2 linked regions of the Homo sapiens genome follow. The protein of the gene in region 1 purifies or fractionates together with the protein of each later gene. This does not show direct contact. Each region holds a gene or a part of one and is shown in the gene's direction. Other genes may lie near its edges. The genes, in order: CEP85L and MARK1.

Region 1 (3,831 bases):
TTGTTGGTTTTTTCTTTTTTTCTTCTTCTTTGATTTTATACTTGTTATTTCTTTGTCTCTCGCACCGAAGTTTGTGGTTCCTATCAACATTAACATAGATGCTTCCCCCCACCAATATGCAAAAAGTAGTTTCAAAGTAATTAAACCACTATTGCTACTAACAATAAAAACCACAGAGTGAGGTTCAAAGTTACTTTTTAGTTCTTTTTATCCTTGGAATAAATCTCATTATAGAAAAATACAGGCTGGGTATGGTGGCTCACACCTGTAATCCTAATACTTTGTTTTGGGAACCTGAGGTGGGCAGATCACTTCACCCCAGGAGTTTGAGACCAGCTTAGGCAATGTGACAAAACCCTCTCTCTACAAAAAATGCAAAAATTAGCCAGGCATCATGGTGTTTACCTGTGGTCCCAGATATTCAGGAGGCTGAGGTGGGAGGATCACCAGAGCCCGAGGAGGTCAAGGCTGCAGTAGTGAGTCATGATTGCGCCACTGTACTCCAGCCTGGGTGACAGATTGAGGCCCAAAAAAGAAAAATACATACACAACCAACATGCTTATTACGTGAGAGACTCCTAGAAACTGAGACTGGATTTATGTTTCCTCCCTTGGATATACGCTAAAGCATCAGATGGCACAGAGAAACAATTTCCACTATTTAAATTGTTATTTTTCTATGTGTTTTTTTTCCCACTGCATATATGTAGTTGAATTTGGTTAATGTGCATATAATATGACTCCATCGTTTTGTTTATAGACTTGGGGGAGAATGTTAACCTGTATGGCTTTGAGTACCTTTCCTCTGTTCTAACAATCTGATGTTTGTTTTCTTTATCCTTGCAGAACCAAAGACAAACAGATGAGACATGCTCTTTATTGGATCAGGGCCAGGAACCTGACCAATCTAGGCAGCAGACAGTTCTTTCCAAACGGCCACTATTTGATTTGACTGTGATTGATCAGCTGTTCAAGGAAATGTCCTGTTGTTTGTTTGACTTGAAAGCATTGTGTAGTATTCTTAATCAGCGTGCTCAGGGCAAGGAGCCTAATCTTTCATTATTACTGGGAATAAGATGTAAGTGTCTGATGACTTGTCCTTATTTTGTGGCAATTAGAAACCTATCTTCATGAATCAGGAACTTCCGACTGCCTTTTCTCTGTTTATTTTTGTAATCTCTTTTCCTACTTAGAATCAGTCTGTGGGTTTATGTATACCTGTTATTACTTCATTGCAAGAAGTGAGTAGGGTTATAGCTGACATTAACTGCCACTTGGTAGAATGCCTGGTGATGTTTCCTATGTTGAATCTGTAAATATGTGAATAGAGTGGTAGTTAGGTGTGACTTCCCATTTTCTCTTCCAAAAATAATGATTCCTTCTATTTGCTTTCATGTGTTAGTTGTATAGATTAAGTGACCCAACCATATTGTCCACTGGTAAAATATTTGAGAAATATTTTTGCTTTCCAGTGCAGTATATGTTCTATGGCAGCTGCTTCACGTGAGTGCCAGTGATTTCACATGAGCCAGTTTTCACAGCCTACAAATCTGTTGCCTTTGTCATGCGTACCTGCTGGCTTAATGTGACACCCATTCACTCTTGGCCTCAATTCTGTCTTCCTCCACACATAATTGTGGGAGCTGCCACAGTAATAATCCTAGTGTCCCTTTCTTTCTGTGCTACTTTTGCAGAAACGCTCATCTCTGTACGTGGTTCCAAATCAGGATGTTAGTCTCTTTATAATAGAGAAGAAATGAACTTGGAAGGAAATAGGAATGCAGTAAGACCATATAATAAGGTTTATGGGCCAACGTGTATTTAGTAGCTGCCTAATATTATGGTTAATAATACTGGTTTTGTTTCAAACAAACTGATTTTGTTTCTAGTTTCATCAAAAAGATTCCACCATTTTGCATCATAATAGTTATTTTGGCAAATCAAATAATGCTCTTGACCAAAGTATATCACTTGTTAAATGAAACATTATCTGTGCTCAACTATGTCCCTTTCATTTCATAGACATTTGTACACATACACAAATGTGGATATCGAAAAAACACATAATGTTTAAGTATATTCACTCACGGAGTAAACATTTATCAGATGCCTTCTATGGTCCAGACACTAAGTAAGTGCTGGTAATGCAGATAACCTGAACACAGTCCTTGTCCACACATTAACCAAATTATTAGAGCATTCTGATAGGTGCTATAGTTGAGATGTGGACAAAGGACAGTGGGAGCACAAGAGGAAAAAAACAACTAAATCTACGTGGGAAGGGCTGTGGAGACTCCACAGAGTAGTTGGTGTTCAGTGTCGCTCTCAGACGAGGAAGAGGAGAAGTTTGCCTGGTGAACATGGAGTGCTTTAATATCTCTTGGGAGCAAGAAGCAAAGCTCACACACAAAGGGAACTCACTTTCTTCATGATTTTAGAGTTGGTCACCCTTTTAATTACTTTAGAGTCTCCTACATTTTCACTGTCATAAGGTAGCATTTGTTAAGTTTTTCAGTAATAGAGTAGTAGAGCTATCCTAATGTGAATCTTACCACGCCCACCTCCCAATACTCCTTCTAGTCTTTAAAGTTTGACCCCAGAATCCTTACCTTATATTTGGCATTGTGAAAGTTTTACCAGCCAGTTGATTTGTGAAAAACCAGTCACTTCATGGCTCCATTTACTCACCCTGTCCTTCTGAAAACTGTGCACTACCTTGGTTTCCATGACATCATTCTCTAGGTTCTGCTTCTGCCTTTATGACTGCTCAGTCTCTGTCTTCTGTGGACTTCTCTGCCACTTAATTATTGGTATCCCCAGAAGCCTTTTGTTACTGGTTTTGTGTTTGTTTCTTTTTATTCAGTACTTTATCTGAGTGATCTTATCCACTCCTGTTTTTTCTGTTACTGCCATACCTTTCACCTAGACATTTATCTCCTTTACCCAGACATTTATCTCCTCTGGGCTCCAGATTATATTCCCATGTATATTAGAACTGGCTATTTCAAATGCATCACAGACTCTACACATTCAAAACCAGAACACACTTTCCTTCCCTCCCTGAACCGGTTCCTCTTCTCAGTGAGTAACACCACCATTCACCTGTCACTTGAACCCAGAATTTATTCTCCACTCTGCTTTTTCCTTCATCTGGCGCCTGTGCCCAATCCCTGCCCATCACTCAAGTTGATGATGATTGAGTGCTATCAGTTCTGTCATCTGCTTACTACATCTAACATTCCTGCCCTTCTATCTCCATTGCACTATTGCCTTAATTTAAGTTTTCATAACCCGTCACCTATACTGGTCTCTCTGACAACCATCTTTCTCATCCCCTCCCCCTAATCCATTTTACATTGTTGCCAGACAGATCTGTCTAAACTATGAACCTGGTTTCCTAATGCCTACACTGCTCTGTGGTCAAGATAGGTAGCTACTACCTACCTCTATAGCCTTATTTCTTGGTACTCTCCTTTGTCACAGTTTGTACTCTACCATTTTAGAGCTAGATACTGATTTTCTTGAGGTTTCTCAAATTCTATCATACTGTTTTGCTTTCTGACTCCACTTTTGTTCATTTTGCAGTTTGGCCAACCCAGTGAACAAGCAACTGTTACCTCTCCAGTTAGGACTAGTTGTTTGTTTTTTTATGCCACTGCAACTTGTATATAGTGGTAGGTTACCCACAGTACCTCACTGTGTTCATTTGTTTATGAAATTGTATGTAAAGCATCGAGAACAAGCCACTGTGTCTGTTCCTTTTCTGACTTCAACATCTAACATAGTTCCTATATCATGGCAGATGTTCAGTTAACATTTGTTAAAATAACA
Region 2 (3,831 bases), on another chromosome or scaffold:
GTCTCTCCCTGCAAGGAGCTTACAGAAGAGATAATAATCCCAAACAAGTAATGTATGGTAGAAGACATTGTGTAAATAGGGCTAAATTGGTTTATAGGTGTTATAGGTGTTTATCAAAGAGGCCACCACTGATGGCTACGAAATCACCATTGGTGACTCTCTTTATTCTCTAGTTGGTAGTAAATGGCATCATCCATTTTTACTTCTCATCGATGAAATAAAGTAACAAGCCTGCTTGTTAGCTAATATATTAATGCCAGTATGGCAGCCAAAATGTATTTTTGTTTATAGTCATTTTCAATTACATGACATATTTTTAAAAATAGTTACAAAACTTTTATATTCATATGACTATTAAAGGGTTCTAAGTCCTTTGGTATATCAAGGACACTAACTAAAAACATTTTATTTTCCTTAGAAATTAAAATCAACAAATACAGTAATTTAAAACACCATCTTGATATTTCGTTGTCGTTTGCAGTTAATATAAACATTTCTTTGGTCATCCATATAACGTATTTGGATTTTGTGTCCTTGGGAATATATAATATCTACCCTTCTCAGTGTCACTAATATATATTCAGGATAAATAAAAATCCCAAAAGAGGAATATTATAGCACTGATCTCTTATATACTACTGCTATATATAGTAGAATGAGAAAGAATTGCTTTTCTCTAAGAACAGTCTATGTGTACTTTTTCAGGAGTATTTTCTTTGATGAAAGATTTGTGTGTGCCTTGTTAATAGGCCTCAACGGGCTAAATACAACAGGACAACCAATGATTAACTTTTAAGGCAATAAACACTTTGTAGTAAAGTAAAAAAAATGTGTTGCAGATAATAGAATCTATGCAAAATGTGTTTGATTTTAGATTATAAACAGTAAGTCCAGAAAAAGAGTAAAAAAGATTTCTCTTTTTTTCTTTTGTTAGATTTTATTTGGATAATTCCACCATGGATATAGATAATATATTATCATTACTCTTACATGTTTTTTAATGAAACAAGAAAAAAAATTTAGTATTTGGGAAAAACTCCGATTATGCTAATTATTAATGGGTCAAAAATGCTCAGCCTAGCTTTCTGTGATGAAATTTTGATCAGTATGAAGAAAACTCTTTTGACTACTTCTTGGAATGTTTTAAAATTGAATTCAGTTAGACTAAAAAGCCTTTAATAAAAAAAGACTCGATGTTGAGTCTTGTGACATACTGAAATTCATGGCGGTGATTATAATGATTACCTATTGTAACTAAGGTTGCCATCAGTAGTTTGTCTTTTGAGAATCATTGTTAATGGCATGAAGAAGCGAGAGGAAAGCATACCTTTGTCACTATCCTTGGATTTTCTGTGCATCCTTCACATGTCACAGTACCTATCACATAGCATCTAATTGCCTGACTTTGTCTCCCTTAGTCTGTGTTGCCAGTGCCCAGCACAGTGACTAGTACAGTATATAAGAAATCAGTGCTGTAACACCCCCTTTGAATTTTTTCATTTATCATCAAAATATATTGGTGACATTGGTGAGGGTAGACATTACGTATTACAACCTGAGAGGCTGAATGAAGCCTTCAGAGAGAAAATTTAGTGACCTACCCAAGGTTAATAATTCTATCCTTCAAGGTGAATAATGAAAATCTGACACCTTCCACTATTACTGTACTCATGCTGTTACTTCGAGAAAGTGTTTTTTTGTTTTCTTTTGTTTTGTTTGTGTCTTAAAGAGTTTAGAAGAGTGGCTCATGCCTCTAATCCCAGCACTTTGTGGGGCCGGGGTGGGAGGATTGCTTGAATCCAGGAATTCGAGACCAGCATGGGCAACATGGAGAAACCCTGTCTCCACTAAAAATACAAAAATAAGCTGGGCATGGTGGTGTGTGCCTGTAGTCATTCACAGCTACTAGAGAGGCTGAGGTGGGAGGGTTGCTTGAGCCGAGGAGATAAAGGCTACAGTGAGCCAAGATCACACCGCTGCACTCCAGCCCGGGTGACAGAGTGTGAACCCTTTTTTTTAAAAAAAAAAATAGATTTTAGAAGAGCATATGAAATGGTATAAGATACTTTATTAGAGGAAGAACAGGGTATGCCGTCCCTATCCCTACTTCTGAACCTTTACTGTTTTCTGTGTGGAGTGCCTTGCACTTGTCCCTTCATATCAAATTTACAAATCCTTTATGGCTTGTCTCATTGTTTTAACAAGACTTCTGAAATGATTGCAGCTAATATTGTTGTTTGTTGTAGCTGAACAGTGGTGGATGTATATAGTACACATCAGTGGTCTCTAAAGTGGGTGTGCAGGGCAATACATTGGAAGAAGAAATGTATTTAATGTTTGTCACTTCACTTCTGACCTACATGCTATTATTACGTCTTTTTTTTTTATAAAAATCCAGTTCATATAGAATTAGACACATGATTTTAAAGTTATTATTATTGTTATTATTTTTCCTCTTCCATCTCATTGTTTCCTTTGGGTGTCATTTTCTCTTTTCCTGATGAATATCTGTGGAAGTTCTTTTGGTGCAGGATTGTTAGTGATGAACTTTTTTAGATCTGAAGACATATTTTGCCCTAATTCTTAAACGATAGCTTTGCTTAGTCTGTAACTCTAGGTTGATAGTTTGATTTCTTTCACCACTCAGAAGGTAGTATTCCATTGTCTATTGATATACATTGTTTCTGTTCAGGAGTCATCTGCTATTTGGTGTGTGATCCTTTCTGTCTGTCTCTATCTTGTGTGGATTCATATGTCTCATCAGTTATGGGAATGTACCAACCATTATGTCTTTGAATGTTACCTTACCTCTGTTCTGCATAGTATTTCTGGCACTCTGGTTAGATGTGCGAAAATTTATCATTCTATCCTTCATGTTTAACCTGTCATTTATTTTTTTCCTCCTATTTCACTGTTTATCTGTACTCCAATCTGTAGTATAACCTATACTATAGTTACCATATATGTTTAGATCTTTCTTCAGCTGTATATAACCCTGTTAACCTATCTGTTGAATTTTTTTTCATTGTGGTAAAAAGCACACATCAGATACACCCTTTTAACAAATTTTTAAGTGTGCAGTACAGTATTTTTGGTGGGGAGGGAGTAGATTTTAGTGGTGGTAAGGTGGCAATTTTATTTTTTTATTTTTTCACGTCTTATTTTTTATTTAATTTTATGATATGTATTAGATCTATTAGTGCATATTTTGGGGGTATATGTGTTAATTTGATACATTCATATAATCAAATTAAGGCAATTGGGATATCTATCACTTTACATATTGATCTTTTCATTATACTAGCAACATTAAAATTATTCTAGCTATTTTGAAATGTACAATTGATTAGTTAACTATAGTCACCTCAGTGATCTATTGAACACGAGGTCTTTTTCCTTCTAAGTGTATGTTTATACTCATTAATCAATCTCTCTTCATCCTCCCCTTCCTACTAACCCTTTCTAGCCTTTGTTAACCACCAATCTACTCTCTATCTTCATGAGATCGCTTTTTTAACTCCCACATATGAGTGAGAACATATTTGTCTCTCTGTACTTGGCTTATTTCACTTAACATAATGACCTCCAATTTCATCCATAGGCACAATATTGTACAGCACATCTCTAGAAATTTTTCATCTTGTGTGACTGAAACAGTGTACATATTGAACAGCAACTCCCTATTTCCCTTTCTTTCCAGACCCTGGCAACCACCATTCTTATTTTCTGCTTTGATGAGTTTGACTACTTTAGATACCTCACAAAAATGGGATCATGTAACATTTATCCTCTGTAACTGGCTTATTTCATTTTAGCACAATGCTCTTAAGG

What was found.
Region 2: the proteins of CEP85L (region 1) and MARK1 purify together in Homo sapiens (affinity purification with mass spectrometry; one large-scale study listed by BioGRID and IntAct). This does not show direct contact.

What each region holds. Positions count from the first base shown.
Region 1 is NC_000006.12:118,466,319-118,470,149, reverse strand, and holds part of CEP85L (centrosomal protein of 85 kDa-like), read left to right. Parts: intron 1-846; coding exon 847-1,078; intron 1,079-2,609; exon of another isoform or gene 2,610-2,691; intron 2,692-3,831. UniProt on the Homo sapiens protein: Plays an essential role in neuronal cell migration.
Region 2 is NC_000001.11:220,530,995-220,534,825, forward strand, and holds part of MARK1 (serine/threonine-protein kinase MARK1), read left to right. Parts: intron 1-3,831. UniProt on the Homo sapiens protein: Serine/threonine-protein kinase. Involved in cell polarity and microtubule dynamics regulation. Phosphorylates DCX, MAP2 and MAP4. Phosphorylates the microtubule-associated protein MAPT/TAU.